Regions from separate parts of the Homo sapiens genome. Here regions 2, 3, 4, 5, 6 and 7 are each linked to region 1. The links come from fine-mapping of genetic effects on gene expression. A gene starts in region 1. Each other region holds a variant in brackets. All regions are shown on one strand. Distances are between the middles of the regions.

Region 1 (4,543 bases):
ATTATGGATTGATCTCCCTGCAGTGAAGTGTTCTAAGTAGGAAGAACACATGGTATTGTGGAAAATCAACATAGCATGGTGGCTCAGAAATAGATTCTGGAGCCAGGCAGGTTGCTTGGTTTGGAATTCTGGTCCTGCAACTTACTGCAACCTCTCTATGCCTTAGTTTCCTCACAGTTTAAAGAGGGATAAAATAATATCTATAGGTCTATTTGCGAGGTTTTAAAATTCTTGGAATAGTACCTGGCTCATTATACATGCTATAGAAATGCTTATTCAATTAAATAAATAAAAGCATCTTTGGTAAGATAACTCTGAACATTGTATGGTTTAGTAGAGGATGCTGACAAGAATAAATAATTAAAACATATCATGAAGTAAGCATAAAAGATAGTGGTAATGCAAAGATGCGAATGAGCTCTGCTTCCTGTGATTAGTGTGAGCAGACAAATTCACTGTACTCAGAAGCTTAAAGCCTAGCGTGGGAAGCTGACATGAATGAAAACCAACGGGAAAAAATGTTAGAGTAGAGGTGTAAGCAAGAGTGATTAATTTCAACTTGAAAGCAAATGGGGGAGGTTTCACAGAGAGGGGCCCAGCATGTTGGTTGATTGCTTGGGCTCCAGAATCAGGCCAGCTCAGTTTAATGCTGACTTTGTACCTCACTGGTTTTGTGACTTGACCTCTCTAATCCTCCATCTCCTTATCTGTACAGTGGGGGGAAATAATAATGATAATAATAGGTAGCTCATAGGACAAATAAGAATTCACAGTTAATGCATCAAAAATCTTAGCACAAGGCACTCAATAAATGTGAAGCTTTTATTGTTATTACGAGTTGAAACTTGAGTGGGAAAGAACTTCGTTCACATTAAACATGAGAAAAGGCCCAGAAGTTGAAAAGCATTTGACATAATTAAAGAACAGCAAGTCAGTGCCACTTAAACGGTAATCCAACCACCGCCAGTCAGTGAACAGCTTTTTACTGCTCCATGAACAGGTAAGTATAGAAATTGTGAGTAAGCATTTAGAAATAAAAACAACAACAACAACCAATAATTGAAAAACTAATTTTATACTTTTTGGCATACTCATTGTACACTTGTAATAAAAACTGGGCTTGTAGTTTTTGTCTCTTTTCTTATTTGCTAGCAGGTTTTGATTTGTATTTTACAGAAATAATGGTCCATGTCAGATTGGAAATAATAAAAACTTGTCTTTTACCCTTGATAGTTTGAGAAAAAAGTAATTCAGTGGGGTTAGATATGGCATCCGAGAGATGATTCGGGAAAGGTGGGCCAGGGCCATGTTTATGTGGACCCTCCAATGCCTCAGAGTTCACACTTGTTTCAGTGGGCAACAGGACTAGTAAGGTTTAGAGGGACTGTTAACCGAAGGTGAGTGGACTTTGCACATTTTATGGTATTTTTTTTTTCCCAGTAGGCATGTGCTTATTCTTTCTTTTCTTTTCTAATTAAAAGTTCTGTTTGGTTTTTTTAGTTAAGAGGAGAGACTGGAACTGCTCAGTGTTTCACAAAGATAACTGTTTGTATTTGATAAGAGTTTCGTTAAACAAAGGAATTTGCACTTATCAAAACATAAAGCATTGAAAACACTGAGCACATACTCTGTGACCAGAATGCGTGTGACTTGTTGAGATAAGCCACACCGGGTAATCAGATGAGTCTCCTTTCTTCTTGGGCACCCTCATATAATTCAGGCACAAACGAAAGAGAAAACGCTTTTTCTGATCTCTCAGTTCGGGTCATCTCTGCCTTCCATCATCACCGCCTAACAATCCTACACCTGGCAGGGTGGGAAAACGGTTTAATAATCTCTTCCCTTTGGGAGGCGTTTGACAGCTCAGAAAGCATGGCCTTTACTCAGGCTCAGAGACACACAAAAACCTTTCACGTTTTCCTTTCAGCTTCGCAGCCCCGTCCTTCTCCACCTGCACGGGCACCCACTGAAGCACAGGACCCTTCTGCCAAGCCATGAGCCTTCTCAGGCCCCTGCCGCCCGCCTCGCCTGAGGCTGCGCTTCTGAAAAGCACGCGGCCCTGGCCTGCGCACCACCCAGTCTGAAGGCGACGCCCCTGCACGAAGGAGTCAGGCCTAGGGGCTCGGGACCCAGGGCGACACTCAATTTTCTAACAGGAGCCACAGCCCAGAAGCTGAGAAGCCTTCCGGCCGATCTGTGGCCCTGAGGTCGCCCTTGGAGGGCGAGTGAGAACCCCCCAGGCGTTCCGGAGGTGGCCCCCAGCCCGAACCCGGCGCCCGCCCCGGCTTCCCGAGTCAGGTCTTTGCCCCGCCTCTCGGCCCCGCGGCCTGGCCGGCAAGCAGGGCTGCAGTCACGGGGCGGCGCGGAGGGCCCCAGCCCAGTCAGGGGTGTGGCCGCCGCCACCGTAAGGCTAGGCCGCGAGCTTAGTCCTGGGAGCCGCCTCCGTCGCCGCCGTCAGAGCCGCCCTATCAGGTGTGTTTGCAGCCGAACTGGCAGTGCCCGCGGGCGGCTGGGCCGAGGCCTTGGCTCCTACCCGCGGGGGTCGGGCGGGCTGAGGCTGGAGCAGGCCAGGGGCGGGGGCAGAGGGGGACGGACTTCCAGCATCGCTCATTCGGGGGCGTGACGGGAGGACCTGGCTGGGGAGCGGCGGGTTGGGAGCCTGTGGCTGCCCCTTCGGTGACAGTGGAGTCACCGAGCCTAGAAATGGGGAAGCTGTGACGTGGGGGTGGTGGAGGGTGCTGCGGGACAGCAGCGAGCACGGCCCTCAGCCGTCCTTCCCAACACGGTTTCACTTCCCCTCAGCTCCAGGGCTCAGCCCCAAGCCGCCCCCTTCATCCCCCATCTGCAAACAATCCTGGTCCCCCTGAGCCTCCAATATGCCTTATGCAGTTCTTTTGGGGTTCCTTTCGCATTTTACCGTGTACTTTCGCTTTTGATGCGTCTAGTTTCTGCTACTGGACTCTCCTAGAATCGAAGTTCCATGAGGGCAAAGTCCCATCTGACTTAGGACTCAGAGCTACTCAATAAGTAATTGAATGAGTACCTATGCCGTAGAACTGAGTGAATTAACAAATGAGTAAGTGAATAAATGAGTGCATACGAGATACAGCTGAATCAATCAGTGCATGAGTGAAAATAAAGATGTATGAAGTGGAAGCAGTGGAGACGCAGGCTTACAACTCCTGTTTTTTGATAGCTTTCCAAAAAGTTGTGTGAATGTCGCACTTTTGCAAATGGAGGCATTCTGATTGGGACCACTTAAAAAGAGTTCTATGCTGTTCAAATGGTCTCTGGAAACGCCCCCTGGTATTTCCATTTTTGTTGGACTTGGCTATATGTGTTTGCTTAAAACAAAATATGCCTAGGTTTTTTCTTGCTTGTGTTTTGTTCACTTCTACTTTGGACGTTTAAAGAATCATTGTCACTATAATATTATTTCATGTATTTCTTAAAGATAAGGGTGACTCTGAAGGCAGAACCATATGACTCTGACTTGTTTGTAAAACCAGGCTTTTCTTTTGAATTCAGAGTTGTTAAGAATCTTGTCTGTTTTCCTGAGACAGGTGCTGGCTGATTTGCAGGTGACTGAAGAAGGCTACATAAGGCCCAGAAAGACGCTTATCTGTTTGTAAACAAATAGGCTTAGCACATAGCTTTAATACAGTTGGTCACTGCAGCCGTTCTTACTTGCCAGGTCCAGGTTCCAGAAGAGCTGGATGACCTTGGACTTGCCACTTGATCTCTTTAGGTTTTAATTTCTTAATCTCCAAAATGAAGATGTTTAGCTAGGAACCCTGCCTGAGTTAAACCTCTGGGATTCTTTTGTATCAGGGTTAGAAGGTGAAATTACAGATGATTTCATGGAGTTCTGCTTACTTCACCTCCCATAGCATTTTGTCTCTGCTCTCTTCTTTGCTGTTTACAGCTCATTTCCTTTCTTCTCCACATCTGCAACAAGAAAGCCTGGGAGCTCAAGATAAGTGTAATAAACCCTAGGCTGGTGGGGAGAAAGGAGGGTAAGATTTTCTTCTACATTGTCACAGGCTCCTGGTCCTGGGTCTGACTTTTTTCCAGTGCAACCCAGTCTGACAATGCCATATATTCCCAGTATATCTGGGGAACTGCATCACTATTTCTTCGCATGCATTTGAGATTAGTTATCATAGATCACATTTTGGAGCTGGAAGGACCTTGGAGATTTTTTAAAGGCACTTCAAAAGTCATTATACATACATATTTAAATATTTTTGCATGCTACATTTAACAAACACAAAGTTCCAAATGTGTTAAGTAAAATGAAATTAATGTTACCTACTTCAGTGAATTCAAGTTTATAAGGAGAAGTGGAATACACATGTTGCTTGGTGAAAAGGGCCAACTTTCTCACACTGTTTTCCCAATGAGGTCATGTGTCATACAGGCATGGAATGTTACAAAGCTGATATTTATGGGGCACTGACCATACACCAGGCACTGTTATATTTAACCTTTTTACTTATATTGCCCCATTTAATCATCACTATATATCTAAGAGCTAGATACT
Region 2 (4,543 bases), 500 kb after region 1:
CATTTTCTTCATCCACTCATCACTTGATGGGCAGTTAGATTGGTTCTATACCTATTCAACTGTGAATTGTGTTGCGATAAACATATGTATGCCAGTGTCTTTTGATATAATGACTTATTTTCCTTTGGGTAGATACCCAGTAATGGGGTTGTTGGATAGCATGGTAGATATACTTTTGGTTCTTTGGGAAATCTCTATACTGTTTTCCGTAGAGGTTGTACTAATTTACATTCCCACCAATAGTGTATAAGCAGTCCCTTCTTACCACATCCAGTCAACATCTATTGTTTTTTGACTTTATAATAATGGGCATTCTGGGGCCAGGCATGGTGGCTCGTGCCTGTAATCCCAGAACTTTTGGAATGCAGGAGGATTGCTTCAGTTCAGGAGTTCAAGACTAGCCTGGACAATATTGTGAGACCTTTACTGTACAAAAAATAAACATAAAAATAAATTAGCCAGGCATGGTGGCATGCATCTGTGGTCCCAGCTACTTGGGAAGCTGAGGTGGGAGGATCTCTTGAGCCCAGGAGGTCAAGGTTGCAGTGACCTGTGATCATGCCACTGCACTCCAGCCTGGGTGACAGCAAGACCCTGTCTCAAAAATAATAATAATGGCCATTCTGACTGCAGTAAGGTGGTATCTCATTGTGGTTTCGATTTGCATTTTCTTGATAATTAGTGATGTTGAGCATGTTTTTATAAGTTTGTTGGTCATTTGGAGATACATAAAACATTGAACAAGCTTTCTCTTTGAGAAAGTTTAAGGAATGTGGTAAACTTAAATTCCATTCAGAGATCAGGAGATTGTAGACAAATTCCAGATTCTGCCACATTAAGGATACTATAGAACTCCAACAAAAATGAGACCCCAAAATATTATACCTCAATACAGTGGTGAACAAAAATAACTCTCAGGTCTGCAAGGAAAGTTACCATGATTGAGTAAAAGCTAAGTAGAGGGTCTGAAGAAATTCCCACTTATAAAGTTAGATAAAATATTAACTCACAACAAAAAGGGGAAAAAAAGAATCACAGCATTCTGAGCAAGAGCAAACAAAAAAAGATCAAGAATTAACCCACAGTGTCCTCTGATATTGGAATTTTTTGGTTAAAATTATTTAAGCTATGTCCATTATTTCAAGGAAGTCAAAGAAGAGTTTGAAAGTAGAATAGAGAGCATGGGACCATAAAAAAAAATGACCAAGCATATTGTAGAAAGAACCAAATAGAACTTTAGGGAATATAAATTATACTCAGTGAAATTTTAAAATTCGGGGACAAATTTAACCAATTTAATGAGAGTTAGTAAACTGCAAGACAATAGTGATGAAATTTATGAGAATTTAGCACAGAAAGACAAAGAATGGAAAATATAAATGAAAGGTTAAGAAATATGAAGGATAGAGTTATATTGTCTAATGTGTTTAATCAGGGTTTCAGAAAAAAGAAAATGGGACAAAGAATTATCTGAAGACATAATAAATCAAAATTTTCCAGAATTTAGATACACAAAATCAAGAAACCCAGTGAATCCCAGACAGAATAAATAAAAAGACATATTTTAGAGAAACTACAGACCAGAAGAGACAAAAGAAGCTCTTTGAAGTAAGAGAGAAGAGATGGACTATCTTGAAAAAAGCAACAATTGGACTTTTAGCTAACTTCTTAACAGCAACAATGCAAGCCAGAAGATCTTCCACATGCTGAGAGACAACAATTATCAACCTAACAACTCTGTGCTCAGGGAAAATATCTTTTGAAAACAAGGACAAAGTAAGGATATTTTTCAGATTAAAAAGTGAAAGAGTTGGCCAGCCATGGTGGCTCATGCCTGTAATTCCAGCACTTTGGAGGGTGAGGCGGGTGGATCACCTGAGGTCAGGAGTTCAAGACCAGCCAAGCCAACATGGCAAAACCCCATCTCTACTAAAAAAAAATACAAAAATTAGCTGGGTATAGTGGCACGTGCCTGTAATCCCAGCTACTAGGGGGCTGAGGCAGGAGAATCGCTTGAACCTGGGAGGCAGAGGTTGCAGCGAGCCAAGATCATGTCACTGCACTCCAGTCTGGGCAACAGAGTGAGACTCTGTCTCAGAAAAAAAAAAAAAAAAAAGTGAAAGAGTTTACTACCAGCAGGTCTTCACTACAGGAAATTAGAAAAAGTGTCCTTTAGGCAAAATTAAATGATTATAGAGTGGACACTAATATACAAGAAGTGAGGAGATTGGCTCCAGGCCAAAATCAAAATCTGTATGTGACTTTCCAGGCCTGACTTTAGGCATTACAAAGGCTTTGCCTGGCAGGCGCTACTGGGAGAAAGCTGCCCCCTTGATGTGGTTTGATTGTGTCCCCACCCAAATGTCATCCTCAATTCCCATGTGTTGTGGGAGGGACCTGGTGGGAGGTAATTTAATCATGGGGGCAGGTCTTTCCTGTGCTGTTCTCATGATAGTGAATAAGTCTCATGAGATCTGATGGTTTTATAAAGGGGAGCTTCCCTGCACAAGCTCTCATTTGTCTGCCACCATGTGAGACGTGCCTTTCACCTTCTGCTGTGATTATGAGGCCTCCCCAGCCATGTGGAACTGTGAGTCTATTAAACCTCCTTTTCCTTATACATTACCCAGTTTCAGGTATGTCTTTATCAGCAGC[C/A]TGAAAACAGACTAATACACCTCCCCACAGCTGACTTAGTGCTCTGCCAGTGGGTTACAGTTTTCCAGAAGGAGCTGCAGTCAAGGACTCAGGCCGCCTAGGGCAGCCACCCATTCCTCACCCAAACACCTCCATTCAAGGCCTCCTTATCTTATGACCAAGATACTTTCATCCACTCTGACCCAGTACTTTTCTAGTCCTAGACTTCCCCTACTCCCTTCTGTCAGTCCCCTGGACCATAAAATGTCAGGAGTCATTTGTTCAGGGCTCTTTGGTAGTGAGATGATTTTCCCTGTCTGAGCTGATTCATCTGACCCTTGCCTACTGCCATTCCCTGGGGAAAAAATGGAATGTTAGGAAGCTGGTGCTTATTTTTGCCTCTTGTTTACACTATTTCTGTAAGTGATTAAGGCTTGATTGTTAACTTTCAGTTTGGCTTATTGTTCTGACTGACCACCTAATCCTGGCCACTGGACAGAAATTAAGAGCAAAGAAAGTGATAACCGTTTTAAACAAACATAGAATAAATAAAAACCACAATAATAAGGTGGTATTTGAAAAGAAAACAAGATGGAAAGAATATATTTCACTGGAATAGCATGTGAATAAGACGTGAAGTTACTGGAATTAGTGTTCTAAGGTCCTTTTGAAACTGCCTTTGCAAAATTATAACAGTAAGAAAAATCTGACCTAGTTGACTCCATCTTACTTCTAACCCCAAGCTGTCCTTGGTCATTCCTGGACATAGGCCAAGATAACTTTGAGAGGAATTTAGTTTACAGTTTAACTTAGAAGCAAGAATGATAATAGTCCCTCCCTGAAACTAACCCTCTCCCTGTTCAATGGCTGAAACTGCCTTTGTAAGACTAATGAAAGGCCACAAGATTAGGATTATGGGAGAGGCCCAAGTTCTGCTAAAATGTAGGCATAGTTTCTATAATTTCTTACTGCTCAGGAGTCATGTGGCCAGAGGTCCCAAGATTTATAACTTCCCCAATTGCTTCTATAGGTATCACTGTTGTAGAACCTAAGACTGGGGAGTTTTTTTTTTTTTAGATGTTTTTCAGACTGATCCCATCTGGACTCATGACTCAGCTGGTCCTGTGGCTCTGCCCACAGGTGGCCTCACTGCACAAGGACAGTCTTCCAGTGATGTGATGGCATTCCCAACCAATCAGCTGCACCCATTCCCTAGTCCCCTGCCCACAAAACTGTCCATAAAAACCCTAACCTCTGACCCTTCAGGGAGACTGATTTGAGTGATAACTCCAGTTCTTCTGCATAGCTGGCCTCATGTCAGTTAAACTCTTTCTTTACTGCAATGCCATGGTCTCAGGCAATTGATTTTGTCTGTGCAGTGGGCAGAAAGAATAAATTTAGGAGCTCATATGGGATCCACCCTTGTGGGTGCCTGCTTGCAGTTCATTGGTTCCCCACAGGTCCGACTGACCTGGAGGTGAGCTCTGACGGCCACTTATTTCTCCAGAACTGAGGGTCTCTGCTGATGTCCCTCTGCAGCTGTCCTGCCAGTGAGGCACTGTTGACCCATCGTGCCTGGGCCTAACTGTCATGTAGAAATAGTTTCTGGAAGTCATCTTTAAACTGGTCTGGTGAGTATTCTAAGTGCGACCAACATCCCCTTCCTTCTCCTGACCTAGTTGGCCCCTTCTGTGGGTTCCAGATAGCCTTTTTCTGTGAGTTCATTTGTATTGCTCTAGAACAGGATAAAGATATTGTCTAACTTTAGGCTTTGCTAAGTTAAATATGAAAGTTAAATTTTCTGGCCAGGCGCCTTGGCTCATGCCTGTAATCCCAGTACTTTAGGAGGCTGAGGTGGGCGGATCGCTTGAGGTCAGGAGTTTTTAAGACCAGCCTGGCCAACATGGCC
Region 3 (4,543 bases), 410 kb after region 1:
CTTCCATTCTAGTGAATCAAGACTGATAATAAATTGGATAAATAAGTAAAATTGTATGTTAGATGAAAATAACTGCTAAGGAGAAAAATAAAACAGGGAGCAGAGATAGAGTACATGAGGAGGGGGCTGTTTTAATTTTTGATAGAGGGGAACAAGGCAGACTTTATGGAGGTGGTAATATTTGGTTAAGACCTGAAAGGATGAAGAGGAGAGCCACGTGGATACCTGGAGGAGAGCATTCTAGCGAAGATGGAGAGTTGTTCCAAAGGTGCTGCTGGAGGCCATGCTTGACATTCAGGGGATAGGGAGGAAGCCAATGTGCTTGAAATGGAGCAGTGAAAGGAAAGCAGTAGGACAAGAAGTCAATATAAAGAAGCCCAGGCAGAGTCAAGCCCCATGGGCCATTTTCTCTGAGTGAGGTTGGAACTATGGGAGGCTTTTGAGCATAGGAGAAACATGATCTGAATCAACTTTCTAAAATAATCATTCTGGCTGCTTGGTTGAGAACAGACTAAAGGGGAACCAGAATGGAAGAAAGATAATAGCCTAGGCAAGACAAGAGTGTAGTTTGGAACAAGATGATAGCTGTGGAAGGCATAGCAAGTTGTCAGGCTGCAGATAATATTTTAAGGAAGGAGCGAACAGAATCTGATGGTGGATTGCATATGGAGTATGAGAGAAATAGAGGAGTCAAGCATAAACTGACAGTTTGGGGCCCAAACAACTGAAATGAGGGGAGTTAGGCAGGGGGAAAAGGGGGAGATAAGGAGTATGGGTTTGAACCTGTTAAGTTTGAGATATCAGACTTTCATGTGGAGAGGTCAAGTAGGCAGTTTGGTAAAAAGTATAGAGTTCAATGAATTGACATTTCTCAAAAGAAGATATACAAATGGCCAACAAACATATGAAAAAATGTTCAACATCACTAATCATCAGGGAAATGCAAATAAAAACCACAATGAGATACCACCTTACCCCTGGGAGAATGGCCATTATTAAAAAATCAGAAAACAATAGATGTTGTCGTGGATGTGGTGAAAAGGGAACTCATACACTGCTGGTGGGAACGTAAATTAGTATAGCCTCTATGGAAAACAGTATGGAGATTCCTCAAAGAACTAAAAGTATATCTACCATTCTATCCAGCAATCCCACTACTAGGTATCTGCCCAAAGGAAAAGAAGTCATTATATCAAAAAGACACCTGCACATGTACATTTATCACAGCATGGTTCACAATTGCAAAGATATGGAATAAACCTAACTGTCCATCAATAGATAAGTGGATAAAGAAAATGTGTTACATACATACCACGGAATACCACTCAGCCATAAAAGAGTGAAATAATATCTTCTGCAGCAACTTGGATGGAACTGGAGGCCATTATTCTAAGTGAAGTAATTCAGGAATGGAAAACCAAATACCACATGTCCTCACTTATAAGTTGGAGCTAAGCCATGGGTATGCAAAGACAAACAGGGTGGTATAATGGACACTGGAGACTTAGAAAGGGGGAGAATGGCAGGTGAATGAAGGATGAAAAACTACCTATTGGGTATAATGTATACTATTCGGGTTACGGGTGCACTAAAATCCCAGGCTTCACTGCTATACAGTGCATCCATGTGACCAAAAAACCACTGTACCCCTAAAGTTATTGAAATAACAAAATGTTTTAAGTATAGAGTTCAGGGGGGAAGTCTACAGATAGCCATAGGCATGGAGTTTTCTTCATATAAATGCTCCATCTGAATGGAAAATAATAGTTACCCTCTCACAACACCCCTGTCCCCCTGTCCAATGGAAGCTCAGCTTCTATGTTTTCAATGCTGTGATTGTTGGTTTTGCTCTCCAGGGAATATAGTGCCCTTAGAGGCTCTGTCTCTTCATCTTGAAGATCCCCTGGTCCTAGGGTCTGGATTCTCCACAAGCCTCCTTTATCACATCATCATGATCCTCACTGGAATCAGTCTCTCTGAACTGTTTTCTTCCTCCTCCTGATGTCTCACTCCCCTCTCTCCTTTCTCCAGGGCTATTGTTGCCACCAGTTCCTAAAGCCATTGGTTGCACCACCTTTCCTTCAATAAGTCAGCTGATGTAATTGGATAGAGATGGTTTTGTGGCTAACTTTTTCAGCCTTTTGAGGTTCAAGTCCATATTCTGTAGACAACTTGAGGCTTCTTTAGTCATAAAGCCAAATAAATAATAACTCAACTCTCACCTTCAGATTCTCCCTGACCAAGATCATTTCTCCCATTTTCTAAATAGGCTGAAGGAAGGCAAGGGCTGAAACGGAGACAGGATGCTACTGCAGTACTCCACGTGAAGGCTGGTGGTCGCTTGGACTGAGTCAGAACAGGGAAACTGATGGGAAGTTGTCGGAGAGTAAGTCTATGTTGAAAATAGAGCCAACAAGATTTGTTGATAGATTGCATTTTGGGTGTACAAGCAAGAGAGGAGTTCCAGAAGAAACCAACTCTACCAGCACCTTGATTTTAGCCCTGTAAGGCTTATTTCAGACTTACAACCTCCAGAACTGTTAGAGAATAAATTTTTAGGCCGGGCACAGTGGCTCATGCCTATAATCCTAGCACTTTAGGAGGCCAAAGTGGGTGGATCACCTGAGCCCAAAAGTTCAAGACCAGCCTGGGCAACCTGG[C/T]GAGACTTTTCCTCTATAAAAACACAAAAAAATTAGCTGGGCGTGGTGGTGCACCTGTAGTCCCAGCTACTCAGGAGACTGAGGTGGGAGGATTGCTTGAGCCTGGGAAGCCAAAGCTGCAGTGAGCCAAGATCATGCCACTGCACTCCAGGCTTGGTGACAGAGTGAGACCCTATCTCAAAACACACACACACACACACACACACACACACAAATTGTGTTGTTCAAGTCAGTGACTTTGTGGTAATTTGTGACAGCAGCAATAGGAAACTAATACACAATTAGACATCTAAGTGGAGGTACTGAGTAGCTGTGGGATATGAGTGTAGAATTCAGGAGATGCATGAAAATATGAATTTGGAACTCATCACCATACAGATTTATTTAAAACCATGAGCCTAAATAAGGGTTCCAACACAGTAAGTGTGATAGAGAAAAGAAGAGGCCTTTAGTCTGTTTCTGAGCACCCCAATTTCTATTGGTCAGGAGGATGAGAAAACCAGCCAAGAAAAATGAGAAGGATCATCCAGTAAAGCATAAAAAGAGCCAAGAGTCTGAGGTTCCAGAAGCCAAGGCAAGAATGCATTTCCAGGAGTAAACAAATGTCAAGTGCAGCTCCATCACAGGTTTGAAATTTGGTGCTCACTAATGGTTTCCACTTTAAATTTTTTGCTAATGCCTACAAAAATTCTAGGAGGGACAACCAATGTTTGAGAGTGAGATACTCTACAGAACATGCTTATATTTATCCTTTTAGAGATTGCCTAAGCTCTGATCCTCTCTTGGAAAGCTACATTCTGGACATTAGTTGGATGCTTAGAATAAAGTCATCTGTTCATTTGACAAGTATTTTCAAGTGCCCGTTAGCTAGGTTCTGAGAATATGCTGATGAACTAACAAGATCCCTGCTCTCATGGGAACACTTTCAGTCTAGGGTATTTGCTGAGGCCAAACATCACCTCTTTTATCAAGCTTTTGCCAACATTTTTCAGTAGTTGCTTTCCCTTCTTTGTACATATTCATAGAACTCATCACATTTAATGTATTAGCCAGTTATTGCCTCTGCTGGTAAACTCTCCCCTCCTTTAGGAAAGCAACCCTATCTTAGTCATCTTCATATATAGATACCCTCATATGTAGGTTGGAAATATGATTTATTATTAAAACCAGGAAATGTCTGCAAGAGAAAGGAGGCTCTGTTAATTAACACCAAGACAGGGGATGTAAACTGGGACTTCCTAGGGCAAACAAAAATGTATAGTCACCCTATCACTCAAGTTTACGTCAAAATAACTGTTGAATAAATACATTTTGCTTCCTGAAAAAACACATTTACTGAAATGTGACTTAATATTTTGCTTTTGGCTTTAATTGAGGATCAATATGTAAGAAATAGTGTTAGGAAAAGTGTTTCTGCATCTTTTGTAAAACTGTTATTGGAGACTGTGTCCATTATTTTGTCCAGCGTTCCTCATATAAAGAGCCATGTAATTACTCCCCTTAGAACTGAGCGCTAGAAAAAAATATTGCTTTTTTCAAGGAGATGGTGGTGCACTTTCTCTTCCTAGATAATGAGAGCTCAGTAATACATCAATCACGCTCTCACATTGGCAGCCACAAGCTAGAGCTAAATTATATCCTCAAGTTGCTTTTAAGGCTGTGTCAAAATGTTCCAAATTGTGACTTTTCCTTTGCCTTAAACATTTATTGTTCACCTACTATGTGCTTAGTTCTGTTATTTAATCTAGAGATATGGCAGAGATCCACACACGTGATTCCTGTGTTCATGGCATTTTCTTGGTTCTAGCACATTTACCTACTCTTTTAGTACAGTATTTGGACATTTTCTTGTAGAGAGCCTTAAATTTTTGCAGGAGCAAGGC
Region 4 (4,543 bases), 46 kb before region 1:
GGGACAGACTTGGCAGGCTTCAGAAGGCCGAGTTAGTTCGCAGTGGGGAGAGCCAAAAAGCAACCCAGTTAACACAGCAGAATCTCTTGGGACCTAGGAATTGGTGGCATTCAGTGGAGGGTGAGAGTGATGTTAAACTCAGGATGATTGGCTGGAAGTCTGTTTAAGAAATAGATCCCCTGGTTCCTTTCCTCTGTCATGTAGCAAAGGGGCTCATGTTCCCTGCCCTCAGAGGGAAACCTGGAGATTTATTATCTGGAGAGGGTAAAACAGAACCCGGGGGTATTTCAGGAACAGATGGGGCTGGGGGTACCTTATGTAAGACAGAGAAAATAAGTTCTTAGATTAAGAATAATTTAATATGGTGTGATCCCAAGTTGTCTTGTCTTCTCCCAGTCAGTTCCCAGAACACTGGCAGTCTGTCCATTTACCCTCTGGGTAGGGGACTGGGAGGCTCCCCTCTGGGAAGCTGGACCAATTCAAAGAGAGTGGCATGGGAGCTCTCCAGTGAAACGTACAGCTCTGTATTACAAAGAATAAAACTTCAATGAGAAATGAAAAATTTCAGTCGAGGGGATGTTGCCTACATTTGACACACCTCTCCTGTGTGCTCAAAGCTTCTAGTCCTCTTTTCGGTGTTTCCCTCTTCAATATAAACAGGCAACCAAGGCTCCCCAGATATTTAGGAAAAACTTGTAACATGAGAGAAAGAGAAACCCCCAAATTGGGAGAGGACAGCCACTTACAGGAAGAAAAAAATTCACAGAAAAACATAGTAAATTCAGAGAGAAAAGCAGATGCTCGAACAATGGCACAAAAACAGGATACTATAAAACAGGAATGTTCTGAGACATAAGAGTTCTTAAGAGTGTGGGACTGTCGTGTCAAAAATGAAAAGCTCATTTGGAAGGTGAGAAGACACAGAGGATATTCATTCATTGAGGAAGTATTTCTTAATCACTTAGTACATGGGAGAACAGGCACCATTCTAGGTTCTAGGGACACTTCAGTAAATAAAATCTAACAATGTTTTCTCTGGCGATAGGCTAATTGTATTTATTCCTTCTGTGTTTCCAAATTCATACATGCAAATGTATTTTAAAAAGTATTATTTTTATAAGTTGTCTAAGTCCATTCAGGTTGCTATAGCAAAATACTTTAGACTGGGTAATTTATAAATTTATTGGTCTCAGTTCTGGAGGCTGGGAAGTCAAAGATCAAGGCACAGCAGATTTGGTGTCTGGTGAGGGCTTTCTGACTACTTTTTAGATGGTGCCTTCCTGCTGCATCCTCACATGGCAAAGGGGACAAACAGTGTCCCTCAAGCCTCTTTCCGAAGGGCACTAATTCCATTCCATGAGGGCCCTGCCCCCATGACCTGCTCATCTCCTGAAGTCCCTCTTCTTAATACTATTGCATTGGAGATTAGGTTTTAACACATGGATTTTGGGGAGACACATTCATACCATAAGTAAAAGAAAATGTTATTTTTAAAAAAGAAAATAAGGCTGGGTGTGGTGGGTTACGCCTGTAATCCCAGCAGTTTGGGAGGCTGAGGTAGGTGGATCACTCGAGGTCAGGAGTTCGAGAACAGCCTGACATGGCGAAACCCCATCTCTAATAAAAATACAAAAATCAGCCAGGCGTGGTGGCGCATGCCTGTAATCCCAGCTACTTGGGAGGCTGAGTCAGGAGAATCGCTTGAACTCGGGAGGCGGAGGTTGCAGTGAGCTGTGATTGCACTATTGCACTCCAGTCTGGGTGACGAGCAAAATTCCATCTCAAAATAAATAAATAAATAACAAAAAAAAATAAGAGAATGAGCATGGGAACATAGAGACAGAACCGGTGCCCTGGTGGAGAGATCAAGGAAGGCTTCAGAGAGGGGGTGATATTGATGCTGTACTTGATAGTGAGAGCAGGAGTTTCCCAGAGGGAAACAGGCCTTGGAGTAGTCTATTTCAGACAGGGAGAACAGTAGGACCTGAAGGAGGAGATATTCAGTGGGGCTTCGAGATTTCTGGTTTGAGCAAAAGAGTTAATGTTTTTAATAAAGATATTAAAAGCAGCAGAGCCATCTGAGACAGATTGCCCATCTGTCTCTATCTTTTTTTTTTTTTTTTTTTGAGACAGAGCCTCACTCTGTTGCCCAGGCTGGAGTGCAGTGGTGGTATCCCAGCTCACTGCAACCTCCTCCTCCCAGGTTCAAGTGATTCTCCTGCTTGAGCCTCCCAAGTAGCTGGGACTACAGGCGCCCACCACCACACCTGGCTAATTCTTTTTATTTTTAGTAGGGATGGGGTTTCACCATGTTAGCCAAGATGGTCTTGATCTCCTGACCTCGTGACCCACCGGCCTCGGCCTCCCAAAGTGCTAGGATTGCAGGCGCGAGCTACTGTGCTTGGCCCTGTCTTTAACTTTAAAAGTGCCAGCTTAAGGGGGATTTTCTACGTTACAAATCTCTTCCCTCATACAGATTCATCCCACTTCTAGGTTGATGACTCATATTGGTAACTCTTGTGAAACAAGAGGGTCTTTAAAAGCCCTAGACTGAAATTTTTCATTTCTCATTGAAGTTTTATTCTTTGTAAGAAAATGATTCATTGTAGGAACAAATTAAGCATATTATATGTAAAATGTTGATAGATAATTAGGTCACCTGATAAAACAGCATTATATTTCTGGACCCATCATTATTAATGACCTAT[A/AT]TTTACGTAACAGTTTATATAGAATGCTTTAAATATGTATCATGTCTGTTAGATATGTATCTGTGATATATATGTACCTTCGTGGGTTAGTTATTATTAGCCCCATTTTACAAATGAAGAAACCAAGACTCAAGTATTACTTGCCTAAGAGTACAGAGCTAATAAATGCCAGAACCAGTACTAGGTTTGTTTGCTTTCTTAATACCAAACCCTGTATTTATTCCAACATGCCCTGCCATTTCTTCTGTATAATAATGAATATATATGTTTTGAAATTAAAGGAGACAGTTGATAAATTAAGAAATGAACCGGCCAGGAGCCGGGCACAGTGCCTCATACCTATAATCTCAACACTTTGGGAGACCCAGGCAGGAGGATCCCTTGAGCTCAGGAGCTCGAGACCAACCTGGCAACATAGTTGAGACCCCGTCTCAACAACAAAAAATAATAATAATTTTTTTTTTAATATTAGCTGGGCACAGTGGCACATATATTTAGTTCCAGCTACTCAGGAGGCTGAGGTGAGAGGATTGCTTGAGCCCGCAAGTTTGAAGCTACAGTGAGCCATGATCGCACCCCTGCACTCTGGCCTGGGTGACAGAGCAAGAAAAGAAAAAGAAAGAAGTGAACCATGGCCATTGCACATGTTTCCAGCATGTGTTGCTTTCCCACCTGCTTATTACATTGATGCGATTCTGTGGAAAATACCCATTTTCTTTTGTTTGAGGAATTTAGAGGTATTTATCAATGTGTTGTCCGAGGAAGCCTGGTTAGTTTGAGTTACAGAGTTGGAGTTTGTTTGAGTTGTTACAAATTTGACAAATGATCAACTTAAAAGGAATGTTGTATTTGAATGTCAGAAATTCTCAAATGCTATTCTAGTGAAAAGGCAACAACAACAAACAAAAATCATGCTCAGGTAGAAAGTCACTTGTTGAACAAATACCAGATCAGAGCCTGTTATGTCTTAGACACTATGTTAGGCACTCAGGGGCCTATTAGGAAGAAGGCAGGTACAGTGTTTCATGGAAAGGTCACAGTGGCTTGGATTGGAGTGGTGGCCCTGGAACTGTAGAACGGTGTTAAGAGTGGAGGGATAATAAGAAGATAAGATTGATAGGACTGGATAATGGATTCAAAAACAAGGTAAGGAAGAGGAAGTCAGAGTTCTGGTGTGTAGGAACAGAGGGCTTCAGTCACTGCAAGGTCACAGGAGGAGAAGACAAAGGGACCATGAGTTCTGGTTTGGACATGTTCAGAGGTGTGTTGTACCTTTGAGTCATTCAAGTGAAAATGCCAGGAAGGCCACTGGATATGTGACTTTGAGAGGGGTGGTAAAAGCCGATGATGTAAATTTAGGTATCATCTGTGCTTAACTCATCATTTATTGACATTGTGGACATGGATGAGGGAGAAAGTGTAGAGGAAGAAGAGGCCTAGGGACAGACCTTCAGATACTCTTTGATATTTGATGTTGAGGTAGAGGAGGATAAACCAGCAAAGGAAACTTAGAATAGCCAGAGAGGTGAGGGGGAAGCCAGGAACTCTTAGGAACCCAAAGAAATAGGGTTTGTCCGGAAGCAGATGGCACTTGACAGTGTGCAGTGGTGCTAGGAAGTTCTTCTACTAGAGGAAGGCGATTCTGAAGAGTGCCATTGGGTGCTGTGGATACTGGTGACCTTAACAAAACAGTATTAATAGTGATGACAGGGAAAATGCTCCTGGAGGGAGTAGAATGCAGAGTGGAGAAGATGATGAGGACAAGACCTAGTGAGTATCCACCCCCACTGGAAAAATCTGCCTGTAAAACCAGGAGAGGGCCAGGCACGGTGGCT
Region 5 (4,543 bases), 430 kb after region 1:
ATTAACACATATTTTGTAAATGTATTATATACTGTATTCTTATAATAAAGTAAGCTAGAGAAGAGAAAACTGTTAAGAAAAGCATAAGGAAGAGATACATTTATAGTACCGTACTCTATTTATCAATACCATCTGTTTACAAGATGAATTTTCTGAAATGGCAACCACGGTGGCACACCTCAATCTGTGGTACATATCAAGCAATTCAACTTTTTCTTGTAAAGTCACGACTTTTCCCTGCTTCTTGGGAGCACTTCCAACATCACTAGTTGCACATTGTATGAGTCCTATGGTGTTAGTCAAGGTCTACAGTATTACACTAAATGTGATGAAAAGTATGTGAGAGCCATCACTTCTTCCTGTGATATGCAATTTACTGGAGAGATGAACTGCTCACATAGAGGTGATTAGCATCCGCAGCATTTTACCAGATACTGGCAACACTTGAGCTCACCACAATAGCAACAGGAGGTAGCTATGAAATTACTACAGTAGTACAGTATGTACTACAGATAATGTTCTGCAGTTATGATTTAATACTACATCTTTACATTTGTTTACATTTCTCTCATCTGCAAAGGGAGCCATGTACAATCTGTGTTTATGTGCATATGTTTTGACAAATTTTAACTTTTTATAATAGATCTGTGTATACTTTGTGGTAGTAAATGCTAAAATAAACTAGCATCCACATATATTTATGCATTCATAACATACCTTTTTCTTAATTATTTTGATATTTCCAGACTATGTGGTTCATTGTAGAATTTTTTTAAATTGTCACAAATCTCCAAAAAATTTGTGGAAAAAAATATTTGAAAAAGTGGATCCACACACTTCAAACTCATGTTGTTCAAAGGCCAACTAGATTTAATTTCAGTATATTCTGAATGGTACAGTCTAATCATGTAATTCCTTCTTTATTAATTTAAATAAATCTATGCAAACAGAACTTTCCCCTTATCAGCTATTCAGTTACTCTGAGATACTTTTGTATAAGAAGGTAGGATAAATGCCTCATTCTTTCTCTTTATTTACCTATTTTTAAACCATCAGTTTGTTTACTAGTATCACCCAAAGATGATTTATTTATTTTTTGTGTCATTATTAACTGATGGATTTAAAAATATTTGATGTGTTTCATTCCATTGTAGTAGCTATTTTATTGATGCTCAAATTGTCCCATCTTTGGCCAATTGAAACATCTTTAAACTGGTTCTGAGTCCTTTTGACATGACCCTCATAGTTGTTGATATCATCCTGGCTTTCTGATAGGACAAATTGTTTCAGGCTATCTTGTACATGTCCTGCCCTAGATCTGAAATCAGCTATCTCTTCAAAGAATCCAATTTATTTTCCTAGGTCATAGTATTTAGAGGCCACAGTCTGAACAGTAAGTGTGTGTGTTGCTACTGGATTGTTCATTGTTTCTAGGTCTTTTCAGCAGACAGGACTAGGAAACACTTTTTTTCTCCAACATGAAATTATATTACTAATTATATGATATTTCCAATTTAAGTTGAGGACTATAAAATTGCACTTTACCTCACTGATGTTACATCTGCATTTTCTTTTTCCCCTGCCTACAATCCTGGCTCTCAGTGGAACAACATAATCACTCATTTGCTTTATCCCACAATACACACCCAGTAGTCTCAGAAAAACAGTATCAACACGATCACCAACAGTATAACTATTGAAAAGAGTTTTCTGTAGTTCTTTTTGTTTTTAGTATGTATATTCTACTAGAGATGTACAAATTTCTGTTAACCTATGATGCATATTACTCTAAATATGATATCATTTCCATTTCTCTCTCTCTCTCTCTCTCTCTCTCTCTCTCTCTCTCTCTCTCCCTCTCTCCTTTTTTAGAGATGGGATCTCACCCAGGCTGGAGTGCAAAAGTACATTCATAGCTCACTGCAACCTCAAACTCCTGTGCTCAAGCAATCTTCCCACCTCAGCCTCCCGAGTAGCTAGGACTACAGGCTGGCGCCATTGTGCCCAGCTAATTTTTTTAAAATTTTTATTTTTAGAGATGAGGTCTCACTATGTTGCTTAGGCTGGTCTTGAATTCCTGGGCTCAAGCAGTCCTCCCACCTCGGCTGCCCAAAGTGCTGAGATTATAGGCAGGAGCCACTGCACCTGGCCATTTTTATTATTTTTGTTTTAAAACCTCCACTATTGATTTCTAAAATGTTTAAATGCTTATTTTCTAATTTTTCTTTATAATGTGGGGAAGAGAATATGAGTAGGAATCATTATATGATTTATGAATTACCTTGGAGTGTCATAGTTAGATCCTCAGGATACTATTGCCTGTTCTTTCTTCTTAGACCTGACTCAATTTCACAATTTCATTCACTCATTCATTTAAGAAACCCAAGTAAATGCTATGAAGCAATTGGAAAAGAGGCTTAAGGAGAGAATTTAACATATATTTGTTGTTTACTATGTGTCAAAATTATGATAGATGCTTTACTTATCTCATAATTTC[A/C]TAAGAACATTTTGAAGTATAAATTATTATTATGTGACCAATTTTCAAATGAGGCAGTTGGGAATCAGGGAGTTTCCTTTGCCCAAAGTCATAAAGATATTAAGTAGAGAAGCTAGAATTAACATATACAGTCTGTTTTACTCCCGTGTCACATATAAGATGCAGTCCCTGTCCTTAAGGAGTTAATGGAGGGTTGAGACCCAAGAAGAACAGAGTACAATAGGAGTTCAGGCCAAAAGAAAGGTATTAAACTGCCGGGGCCTCACAAAGAGGTGGCATTTCACCTGATTATCAGGAAATAATAAAATGTGCTGGATGTAGAGGGAATGCATCCCATGTCAAAAATTGGAGATGAGCAACATTCTGTAGGTAAGAAAATGTGAGGGGTATTTAAAATGATAACCAGTCGGGTTGGACCAAAGTTTAGTTAATATAGGGAAATAGAAAACTAAAAGCGTTGCCTGGAATCTCAGTTGGGATCTGAAGGTCATTCTGAGGATTCAGGACAGCTAGAAACTTTTGAAGGTTTGAGCAGGAGTGAAATATGCTAGGGCACAATCCTAGCCACTGGGCAGGCTCCGGCTAACCCAGATCCTTCTCCTTGGAAGGACTCCAGACAAAACCCACCCTCATAGATCCACAAGTCTTGCTGATTGACTGCATGTCTTCTAGCAATTTCCTAGAAAAGTTGCATTTTCTTCGATGTTTTGCTACTGGAAGTTTTGCCAAATTAAGTCTTCCAGTTGAAGAGAGATGGAGTAGCCCCACATAGCATTGCATTGCGATTGGCAGTGGTTTTCTGAAGTCTCAGATGTGAGCAAATAAAGTCTGACTCTAATTAGACATACTTAATCTGCTCGTTGAAACTTGGAGTCAAATAAGTCTTAGAGTGACATTTCAGTCTTAGAGTAACATTTCACTGATTTCTTATAAGAGCTTTGCTAAAAAATATGCTTATCAATTTAATCAATTATAGGATTCTAGAAATCACAGGAAAAACATCACAATTAAAGAGATTTTGGTAAAACTGAGTTAAAATTGGGTAGGACTTTTTACTATAAAAATAAGTTATATCTAATGTTATACAATAAACTGCCTAGTTTGGATAATTTCATTAGCTTAAACTCTTCCCTTTGCTCAGTATTAAAGTTCAGAAGTGGCCACCTAACCTAACATTCTTACATATCCCCCTCATGGGGACTTTTAACACAGTGAATTAAGTGTCCCCTTTATTCCATTTTTTTATAAGAATGTATGAGATTGCATAATTCATGATAACTAAACTTACTTTTAAAATATGACATTTGCTGTCTTAATTCTTTCCAGTTCATAATCTATAAATCAAATATGGTCGAGCTCTGTGAAATCTATTAGTTATGCATCTTTTGAGACCTGAGTGATCCGTTGCCTATCATAGGACGAGATATGAAGTGTGTCCTCAGTATTCTTAGTACCCACCCTTCTTTCCTTCCTTCCTTCCTTCTTTCCTTCCTTCCTTCCTTCTATACATGTATTTTTTGTAATAGCTTGAATAGTTTACTGTCATGTAAGAGAATAGTATCTTATGTAGAAACATAGCGTGGACTTCACCAATACTCATTTTTGGAAGTTTAAACCTAAGAGAAAAATGTTTGCTGGATACATCTTTATAAAATCTACATTTTTACAGAAATAGTTCATTGATTATTATAAATATCATGTTTGAAAAACTTTTAAAAATGAAGTTACACACAGATATTGTTTAATACCTTTAGCACTATACTGCGAAGTGCACTGCAGAAATAAAGCCATTGTTTATTTAGATGGGTCAGTGATTCCAGACTCACTACTCCTCACACAAGATTTTATCTGAGATACCCTGATCATTGTAGTCATTTGGCTTGTGAGCTTCAGTTGCCCCCCCATACGCTTAAATTTTTCATTTTGTGCTAGTGTAGACCAAGTCAAAGCCCACATAAACCCAATATATGTGTTAAGGTTAGAGTTGTGCTTCACACTCTTGACTGTACTTTAAAATCACCTGGGGAGCTTTTAAAATTATCTCAG
Region 6 (4,543 bases), 180 kb after region 1:
GTGATGTTTGTTCTTGTTTCAATTTTAGCAGAATTCATGTTGCACTGATGGGGGCTCTTTTTCAAAAAAATATTTTTTATTGTACTAAAATATACATATATAATTTACCATCTTTATCTTTTTTAAGTGTGTAGTTCAGTGGTAATAAATGCATTTATATTCTATTTGTTTCTTTGACTCTTCTCCCCTCTCCCCTTCCTGGCCTCTGATAACTACCAATCTCTATCTTTATGAGATCTACTTTTTTAGCTCCCACATGTGAGTGAGACTATATGATATTTGTCTTTCTGTGCTTGGACTTTTTCACTTAACATAATGGTCTTCAATTCCATCTATGTTGCTGCAAATGACAGGATTTCATTCATTTTTATGGCTGAATGATATTTCATTGTGTATATATATGGCGTTTTCTTTCTTCATTCATCTGTTGATGGGTACTTAGCTTGATTCCGTATTTTCACTATTGTTAGCAGTGCTGAAATAAACACGGGAGTGCAGATATCTCTTTGATGTATTGATTTCCTTTCTTTTTGATATATACCAAGTAGTAGAATTACTGGATCATATGGTGGTTCTACTTTTAGTTTTTTGAGGAACCTTCATACTGTACATTAGGCTGTACTAATTTGCATTCCCACCAACAGTGTATGAAGGTTCCCCTTTCTCCACATCCTCACCAGCATCTGTTATTGTGTGTGGTGAGATGCTGTCTCATTGTGGTTTTCATTTGCATTTCTCTGATGATTAGGGATATTGAGCATTTTTTTCATGTACTTCTTGGCCATTTGTATGTCTTTTGAGAAATGTCTGTTCAAACCTTTTGCCCAATATTTAATCTGAATTTTTTTTTTTTTTTTTTTTTTTTTGCTATTGAGTTGTTTGAACTCCTTATATGTTCTGGTTATTAATCCCTTGTCAGATGGATAGTTTGCAAATATTTTCTCTCATTCTGTGTGTTGTCTTTTCACTTTGTCGATTGTTTGCTGTGCAGAAGCTTTTTAGGTTGATATAATCCCAATTATATATTTTTGCTTGGGTTGCCTGTGCTTTTCAGGTCTTAAACAAAAAATATTTGCCCAGACCAATGTTCTGGGACATTTCTCCAAAGTTTTATTCTAGTGGTTTCATTGTTTTAGGACTTCTATTGAAATATTTTATCCATTTTGATTTGATTTTTGTGTATAGTGGGAAATAGAGGTCCAATTTCATTCTTTTGCATATAGCTATCCAGTTTTTGATAGGGGCTCTTTTAAAACTGATGTCTTATCCTTCTTAGTGCCTCAAACTAGATTCTGTTCAGATATGTTATAATAAATTAGTATGAGTTTATTTTGATGCAAAAAAGTTGAAATCTATTTTTTTATAATACACATTTTTCATGAACTTCTTGAAGACCCCTCCTATTTGCCAGACACTGTTCTTTCATTGACTAATAAATAAATTCTCTCTCCTTTCTTTTTTCATTTTTCAGCTCTTGGGTTTTACAGTTTTAAAAATTAATTTTTAATTAGACAAGTAAAAATTATATGATTTGTACTGTACAAGTGTGATGTTTTGATATGTATGTACACTGTGTAATGGCCAAATCAGGCATATCCATTACCTCACATACTTAACATTTTTTTGTGGTGATAACACTTAGAATCTATCCTCTTAGCAATTTTCAAGTATACAATCTATTGTTATTAACTATAGTCAGCATGATGTACAACATATCTCTTGAACTTTTTCTAACTGAAAATTTGTGTCCTTTGACCAACTTCTTCCCAATCTCTACATTCCCTCATCTCTGGTAATCATTATTTTACTCTCTGTTTCTATGAATTTGAGTTTTCTAGATTCCACGTATAAGTAAGCTCAGATGGCATTTTTCTTTGTGTGCCTGGCCTATTTTACTTAACATAATGGCCTTCAAGTTCATCCAAGTTGTTGCAAATGACAATATTTCTTTTTTTGGTAAGGCCGAATAGTAATTCCATTGTGCCTATATACCACATTTCCTTTATCCATTCATTCACTGATGGACACTTAGGTTGATTCCATATCTTGGGTATTGTCAATAATGTTGTAATGAACATAGGAGTGCAGGTATCTCTTTGACATACTGATTTCATATTCT[T/C]TGGATATGTGTACCCAGTAGTGGGATTGCTGGGTCATATGGTAGCCCTATTTTTAATTTTTTAGCTCTATTTTTAATTTTTTGAGGAGCCTCTACACTGTTTTTCATAATGGCATTCTCAATTTACATTCTCTTCAACAGTGTACAAGGATTCCCTTTTCTACTTATCCCTGCCAACACAAATTCTAACTCTTCACCATGGCCCAGGAGGTCCTGCATGATATGGTTCCTGCCTTTTTGTCAGATTTTGTCTCATGTTTCTCTTTGCCCTTTCTCACTGCACTCCAGCCACAAAAATCCTCTTTCAGCTTCTTGTGAAGGTTTTCCTGCCTAGAGGCTTTTGTAGGTACAGTGACCTCTGCAATGAGTATTCTTGTCTCCATTCTTCTTGTCCATAGTTCGTTAGCATAAAATCCTTCAGTTTTTCAGCTTAAATATCTCCTCAGAGAAGTCTTCCCTGATCACCTAATACAAAGAAGTTTTCTGTCCCCCTCATTCTTCAGTTAGCTAAAAATAATAGAAAACCCAAAACAATAGTTGCTTACACACCATAGAAGTTTCTTTCTCTGTCATATGAAATTATAGATAACTATGCACCAGAGTGTTAGCAACCCAGATTCCACTGTCCAGATGTTCCTTTCCAAGCCTACCTCGTCATCCAGGATGGCTTCTTCCATCTGCATTTGAGTGACCAGGATAAAGACATGCCACCCCCTTTAAGTAACATGGCCACATCTAGCTACAGGGAAGCTAGAAAATGGGGTCTTTTTAAAACTCTAGACAGTCATCTTCCCAGCAAAATTAAAACTGTTATTACTAAGGGAGAGGGAGAAAATGGAAATGGAGGGATGAAGAGGAGTTACATTCCACATTTTATACTCATGGTAGAAATGGACTTTTGTACATTATTGTATCACATGGCATTTTTAATTATATAATTTTCTTGTAGGCAAATAACTTTCTTATGGGAAATTTGTGCTACTCTTAAGCAACTGGCTTGTTTTCCTATTATGGACATTGTGAATCTTCTGCCTGATTATGTTTTGCTTTTTGATTTGTTTGCCAGGAAGTTTGTAGCTAAATTTATGGTCCTCTCCAGCAACTACACAAATCCTATGATGGATATTTTTTCTGATAATATTATCTGTAGCGTTATTTTATTTTACTATACTTTCTTCCTTTCTTTCTTTACCTTCTTCCTTTCTTTTTATTTTCTTCAATGTAATTTTGCAAGTCTCTTCAAATTCCTTTGGTAATAAGTCAGGAAATAAGTAAAACACAAGTATAAATAAATAAAGTATTTTATATTTAATGAAGGTGATAAAAGTGCCTACATTATAGGGCTGTCGAGAGAATCCACTGAGTTAATGTAAGTAAAACATTTAGAGCAGTGCCTGGCATATTGTAAGACCTATAGAAATGCTAGTTCGTTATTATTATTATTTTAATTAAATCTTTCCTGAAGTGACTGTCAGATAAATCTGCTTGATAAGACAGTTTTACTTTAACTTTTGTTCTAGGTTAAACAAAGAGGGAAAGATTAAAATATACATTTAAGGACCACTCAGCAACAATCATTCTATGTCTTCATATTCTAATCTACATGGCAGCTAGTAAATGCATTGTGCTGTGTAAGATAATGTGCTAAAACTCTTAGTGGAGATGGCCTCTAAATTTTTTATGTTTAGTATTTAGGCATCTTGTAGATAAAATGTATGGATGAATAATCAGATGAGGATTCAATGACCAGAAGTACTGTTGCTCTCTCTCCATCTCTTTCTGTTAGAAATAGATCTCCATCAGATAGGTCTGTGTTTGAATTTTAGATGTACTACCAACCACACTATGTGACCTAGGTCAAGTCTCAGCTTTCATGTCAATATATTTACCGATGGGTGGCAGTAATACCTATCATATAGGGACATAAGGATTACATTAAATAATACATGTTAAGATCTTTGCATGGTTCCTGGCCAGAGTACACATACAATAGCTATTTCTGATATCATTATTTTCACTCAAGTCTTTTAAATTGAAGAATTATCACCTTTTAGCACTTGAATTTATATTGAATCTATACACACATCATTTTTTTATTTAAATATTTGAAATCCTTACCCTACAATCCAATGGAAATTCTGCAAATGTTTAAAGTTTTGGACTCCATGACAAAATTGTATAGATAGAATAGTGGTTTTAAATATGGCTCGGGGATTACAAATGGTCCACATGGATCCTTGGGAATGAATCAAGCTACGAGCTCCTATAGCAATAATATTTCTATTACCATAGCGTATGTGCCTAAGTTTCTGGTGTGGATTAATAAATTATTACTGTTGTTAAATGGATGCCTGGTTTTCTTAATTGGTAGCTCATCAAAAGCTTATTAAAAACTTCCTATTCATTTTGTTGATTTCAGTGGTT
Region 7 (4,543 bases), 290 kb before region 1:
CTAGGCACCCAGGGCTGGCATGCATCGGACACTCCTTCAAATTGATGTGTTAAAAATCTTTGCTTGAATTTCACCTGCTAGAGAGACTGAGGCTGAGTGCAGAGGGCATGCAGGACTGAGGGGCCAGGGCGGACAGTCTCTATGGCCTCTGCAGTTCCCAAACACATCCACCCCACCCGCAAAACCAGAGCTGTACAGTCAGTTACCTGCTGGCTCAGTGCCCATCAGTTATTACTTCTCATGGCCCTCGGGAACTTTACAGTCCACCGAAAGTGCTGTTTTTGTTTTCTAGTAAATACATATTTTTTTGTCTTAGTCCATATCTAGTGAAATGAGGTCTTAGCTCCCCTTATGGTCTGTTATGGGATAACTGTCTGACTGAGATGACAGGAAATTTGTGCAAATATTTGGCTCAATGTGTAGAGAGAAGGAACAATGCTGAAGAAGAGAAAACATGGTCTAGGGACCCAGCAGTGGCTGTTTCTCCTACAAGCCAGCCTAGTCCTTGGTGTCTTACAAGCACATTCTTAATTATCTATAACAGCACCACAGAGCACATATGGTGAAGCCTATTTTATAGAGGAAGAAGGAGGTACATAGAGGCTAACTCATTTACCCAGAGGCAGCTAATAAGGAGTGAAGTTTGGATAGGAACTCATGTTTCAGGGCGGGCGCACTGGCTCACGCCTGTAACCACAGAGCTTTGGGAGGTGGAGGCAGGAGGATCACTTGAAGCCCAAGGAGTCTGAGACCAGCCTGGGTAATATAGCAAGACCTCATCGCTACAGAAAAAAAAATTAGCCGGGCATGGTGGCTCATGCCTAATAGTCCCAGCTACCTGGGGAGGCTGCGGTGGGAAGATGGCTTGAGCCCAGGAGTTCAAGGCTACAGTGAGCTGTGATCATACCACTCCACTCCAGCCTGGGTGACAGGGCGAGACCCTGTCTCTAAAAAAAGGAAAAGAAAAAAAGAAACCCATATTTCAGTCCGTGACAGACCGCATATACAATGGTGGTCCCATAAGATTATAATGGAGCTGCCCTATACAGATGTACCATTAAAACATTTTTATCCCATATTTTTACTGCACCTTTTCTATGTGTAGGTGTGCTTAGATACACAAACACTTACCATTGTGTTGTAGTTGTCTATAGCATTCAGTATGATAACATGCTGTACAGGCTTTTAGCGTAGGAGCCATAGGCTATTCCACATGGCCTGGGTGTGTAGTAGGCTATACCACCCAAGTTTGTATACATTCACTCTATGATGTTTCGCACAATGGCAAAATCGCCTAAAGACACATTTCTCAGAACATATCCCATCATTCAGCAGCTCATGACTGTGCAGGGCTAGGTCAATACAGGATAGCTCTTGCTGATCCTAGCCTGAGTTTGTCCACTAGGCTATGCTGCCTCTCACTCAGATGAAAGGGAAGAGCTCTTGGTGGAGACTTCTGGAGGACTGTAAAGGAACATTGGGCCTGACTGCAAAGAACTGAATGCTGACCTCATGCTTCCCAGTTTTCATGGGCTGTGATGAACAGGATGGAGTGGCGGTGGCAGACTAGAGTGAGGAAGAGCAATGAGGGGCCACTGAGAAACCTGCAGATCCAAGGGAGAGGCAGGGAAGCTGGAAGCAGGGGAAATGGGAGGCCATGAGCAAAGAGAGAAGAGGCTTTGGTGATTCTGCCTTATGTAAGGGTCGGGGTGGGGTTGGAGAAAACACTGGTGACAGTGAAACTAAGATGTCAAGGAAAGGCATGGGTTTACAGGGAAAAGGGCTGAGTCTGTTGTATTTGAAGTTCTGGAGAAACTTCAGCATCTAGCCTTCTGGTCTGTGCTGGAGAGTGGTTACTGCTGGACCAGAGGACTCCCCTCACGTTGAGTTACTGAAAGCCATGGTGGGAACCGCGGATGGATGAGACCACCGGGCAGAAAAGCCGAGCAGCTCCTGAACAGTGAACCTTTGGGATCACCACACTGTGTTTCTCACAATTCAGTATCGCTGCTTCTCAGTGGAGGCTCTGCTGCCTCCATGGGAGAGCACTGGAAAATAGAGGGGATGCTTTTGATTGTCCCAGTGGTTGAAGGATGGTATAGGCCTTCGATAGATATACAGTGACACAGGGAAACAAGATGTTCTGCAATGCACAGGGCAGCTCTGCAAAGTGAAAAATTTCTCT[G/T]GGGTCCTCTTGATTTGTAAATATCTCATTGGGCTTTCATTTAGGTGAAAAATCTATTTTGAAGTCTCTTAGCCCAGAACCTAATTACAGTTTCCATATATACCTATATATTTTACTTCATTTAAATTTACATGCATTTTTGTAAGAATGTAACCATATAAATAGAGAGAAAATTGTACTTTGTTTTGTTGGAATTTTACTGAGCTGTTTCATTTCAGGACATCATGTTTCTGCTGGCAACATCACTCCTAAAATTTGAGTTACTACTCTGCATTGATACCTATCCCATTAGTGGTGATTTTACATATTCATTGAAGCATCTGATTATTTTGTATTAAGTGGTCATGTCTAACAGTAAATTAAAATATATTTTTTCTCTATAGATTCCTTTCATTTATTCTATATACTTACAGTTAGGTTATTATATTGTTCTTTTTTAAAAATTATGTGTGCATATGAGTTATTTTATCTATACAGTTTATTTCAGGAGAGTGAAGAGAGTGTTACAAATTCATTGTGGTAAGGAGGGGTTGGAACTGATGAGGTTGAGAACCGCTAGTTCTAAACTAGCACTATCCAGTAGAAATATAATAGGAACCACAAATACATTTTACATTTTCTAATAGTCACCCTAAAAAAAAAAGGATGGAATATTACTCAGCCTTAAAAAGAAAGTAAATCCTATCACATGATATGACATGGCTGAAGCTTGCGGACATTATGGTAAGTGAAAGAAGTCAGTCACAAAAAGACAAATACTGTATGATTCCACTTATATGAGGTATCTAAAATATCTAAATTCCTAGAAACAAGAAGTGGAATGTTGGTTGCCAGAGCTGAAGAGAGAGGCATATGGGGAGTTTTTTAATGGGTATAGAGTTTCAGAGTTGCAGGATGAAGAAGTTCTGGAGATCTGTTTCACCACAATGTGAACATATTTAACACTACTGAACTGTACACTTAAAAGTGGTTAAGAGGGTAAATTTTATGTTAGTGTTTTTTACTATAATAAGAAAAGAAGAGCGGGCAATACTAATTTTCATAACATGTATTTATTTAACTCAATATATTCAAAATACTATCATTTCAATATGTAATCAATATAAAAATTATCAATGAGATATTTTATATTCTCTTTCTTGCACAAAGTCTGAATTCTATGTCCATTTTACACCTACAGCACATATCAACCAAGACTGGCTGCATTTCCAGTGCTCAAATGCCATACATGGCTAGTAGTTAACGGCAAATGCTAACTACACTTGTTGAGCAGACCTTCAGCACCAGGCACTGCTGTGGGTCCTTTACATAGAATTACTCTTCCCATCCTTGGCCCTATGAGATAGGCACCAGGAAATTGAAGCACAGAGACCTTGAATAGCACACTTAATGTCAAGAGAAATTGTGGCCAAGTGGAGAGCTGAGCCTAGGCATTCTGGCTCCAGAGCCCGTGCCTTAATCACTGTGCATAGGCACCCTTGTGGGGTTTTTCTCCTGGACTCCTGTTCTGGCCAAGTGGGAGTCCACCCAGCCTCTTTTCCCAGTGGGATACTAGGATTGTGCTTCCCTGGGCTTGCTCTTCCATGGGCTCACATATTCCATGGAAGCACACTCCTAGCATCTCCCTGGGAAACTGAACCCTGGCTGCACAGGCTTTAGGGAGTCAAAATCTGGCTGGCCCCCAGGGAGCCAGTTAGGCTTGTCTCTCCCTGCTTTCCTGCTAAGCATAGCAGACGCTGGCCAGCCCGTCTGCACGGAAGAAAGAAGCCTGGGTTTGCTTCACAACCGCCTTCAATGTTCTCTATTCTCTGCATTCCCATTAGGAGAGGTAGTGGGCCTGGTGAATCAAGACAAAACACACAGATGTGGCAGAAAGACGGTCCCAACATGCACATCTAATAACGACTTGCCACCAGGACCTTGCTGGTGAATCACTTGCATTTCCAATAACTTTTTCTCCTGAGTTTCCCTTAATAAAGACAGATTTCTTCATTTCCTGGGGCTCCCTCAAGATTATACTGACAACTTCTCCATTAATTATCAAATTATGCCCCATCACAAAATGATTACATCTGCTTCCTACCTAAACACTTCCCCTCATTTGTGAAAAGTCTCATTTAAACTAATATGCTTTTAACTTGCTCAATTTCAACACCTCCATAGAGGCTACTAATGAGCTGATTCCTTGCCCAGCTGGTCCCTTGGCCCTTCCTTGTGTTCTCCGTTCCAAGACCAATTTAGATCTTGCAGTATGGGAAAGGGGAGGACTCACTCTTTGAGTTGGATGCTTGGTGGGAGCCTTCTTGAATGACGTGTATACTTAAACACAGGACCTTGAGTCTGAGCCCCCCACAAAAG

Which allele goes with the higher level. Positions count from the first base shown, and alleles are read on the strand shown. Sizes are in standard deviations (SD) of each study's normalised expression. Not every link is listed here.
For the expression in visceral fat of the gene that starts at base 2,312 in region 1, allele C in region 3 goes with a lower level than allele T (small effect, 0.36 SD a copy in GTEx).

The links. PIP is the estimated chance that this variant, and not a neighbour inherited with it, causes the effect.
Region 2: its variant is the best candidate, but not a certain one, in a credible set for the expression of CPQ in whole blood (INTERVAL, PIP 0.70).
Region 3: its variant is the best candidate, but not a certain one, in a credible set for the expression of CPQ in visceral fat (GTEx, PIP 0.89).
Region 4: its variant is the best candidate, but not a certain one, in a credible set for the expression of CPQ in skeletal muscle (GTEx, PIP 0.71).
Region 5: its variant is the best candidate, but not a certain one, in a credible set for the expression of CPQ in whole blood (TOPMed, PIP 0.80).
Region 6: its variant is the best candidate, but not a certain one, in a credible set for the expression of CPQ in whole blood (TOPMed, PIP 0.53).
Region 7: its variant is the best candidate, but not a certain one, in a credible set for the expression of CPQ in whole blood (TOPMed, PIP 0.70).

Annotation. Positions count from the first base shown.
Region 1 is chr8:96,642,931-96,647,473 of GRCh38, forward strand. It overlaps CPQ (carboxypeptidase Q), which reads left to right and starts at 2,312. Exons shown (of 8, transcript NM_016134.4): 1 at 2,312-2,472. RefSeq lists a silencer at 2,187-2,736.
Region 2 is chr8:97,145,413-97,149,955 of GRCh38, forward strand. The region is part of intron 2 of LOC101927066 (a long non-coding RNA gene); the gene reads right to left. Among named protein-coding and RNA genes, the nearest start is that of TSPYL5, 130 kb to the right of the region's middle. The variant C/A (reference allele first, on the strand shown) is at 2,656.
Region 3 is chr8:97,053,260-97,057,802 of GRCh38, forward strand. The region is part of intron 6 of CPQ (carboxypeptidase Q); the gene reads left to right. All of the region lies in intron 2 of LOC101927066 (a long non-coding RNA gene), which reads right to left. Among named protein-coding and RNA genes, the nearest start is that of TSPYL5, 220 kb to the right of the region's middle. The variant C/T (reference allele first, on the strand shown) is at 2,661.
Region 4 is chr8:96,596,834-96,601,376 of GRCh38, forward strand. All of the region lies in intron 2 of SDC2 (syndecan 2), which reads left to right. Among named protein-coding and RNA genes, the nearest start is that of CPQ, 46 kb to the right of the region's middle. The variant A/AT (reference allele first, on the strand shown) is at 2,709.
Region 5 is chr8:97,076,953-97,081,495 of GRCh38, forward strand. All of the region lies in intron 7 of CPQ (carboxypeptidase Q), which reads left to right. All of the region lies in intron 2 of LOC101927066 (a long non-coding RNA gene), which reads right to left. Among named protein-coding and RNA genes, the nearest start is that of TSPYL5, 200 kb to the right of the region's middle. The variant A/C (reference allele first, on the strand shown) is at 2,498.
Region 6 is chr8:96,820,286-96,824,828 of GRCh38, forward strand. The region is part of intron 2 of CPQ (carboxypeptidase Q); the gene reads left to right. Among named protein-coding and RNA genes, the nearest start is that of CPQ, 180 kb to the left of the region's middle. The variant T/C (reference allele first, on the strand shown) is at 2,120.
Region 7 is chr8:96,355,001-96,359,543 of GRCh38, forward strand. No RefSeq gene overlaps it. Among named protein-coding and RNA genes, the nearest start is that of PTDSS1, 95 kb to the left of the region's middle. The variant G/T (reference allele first, on the strand shown) is at 2,186.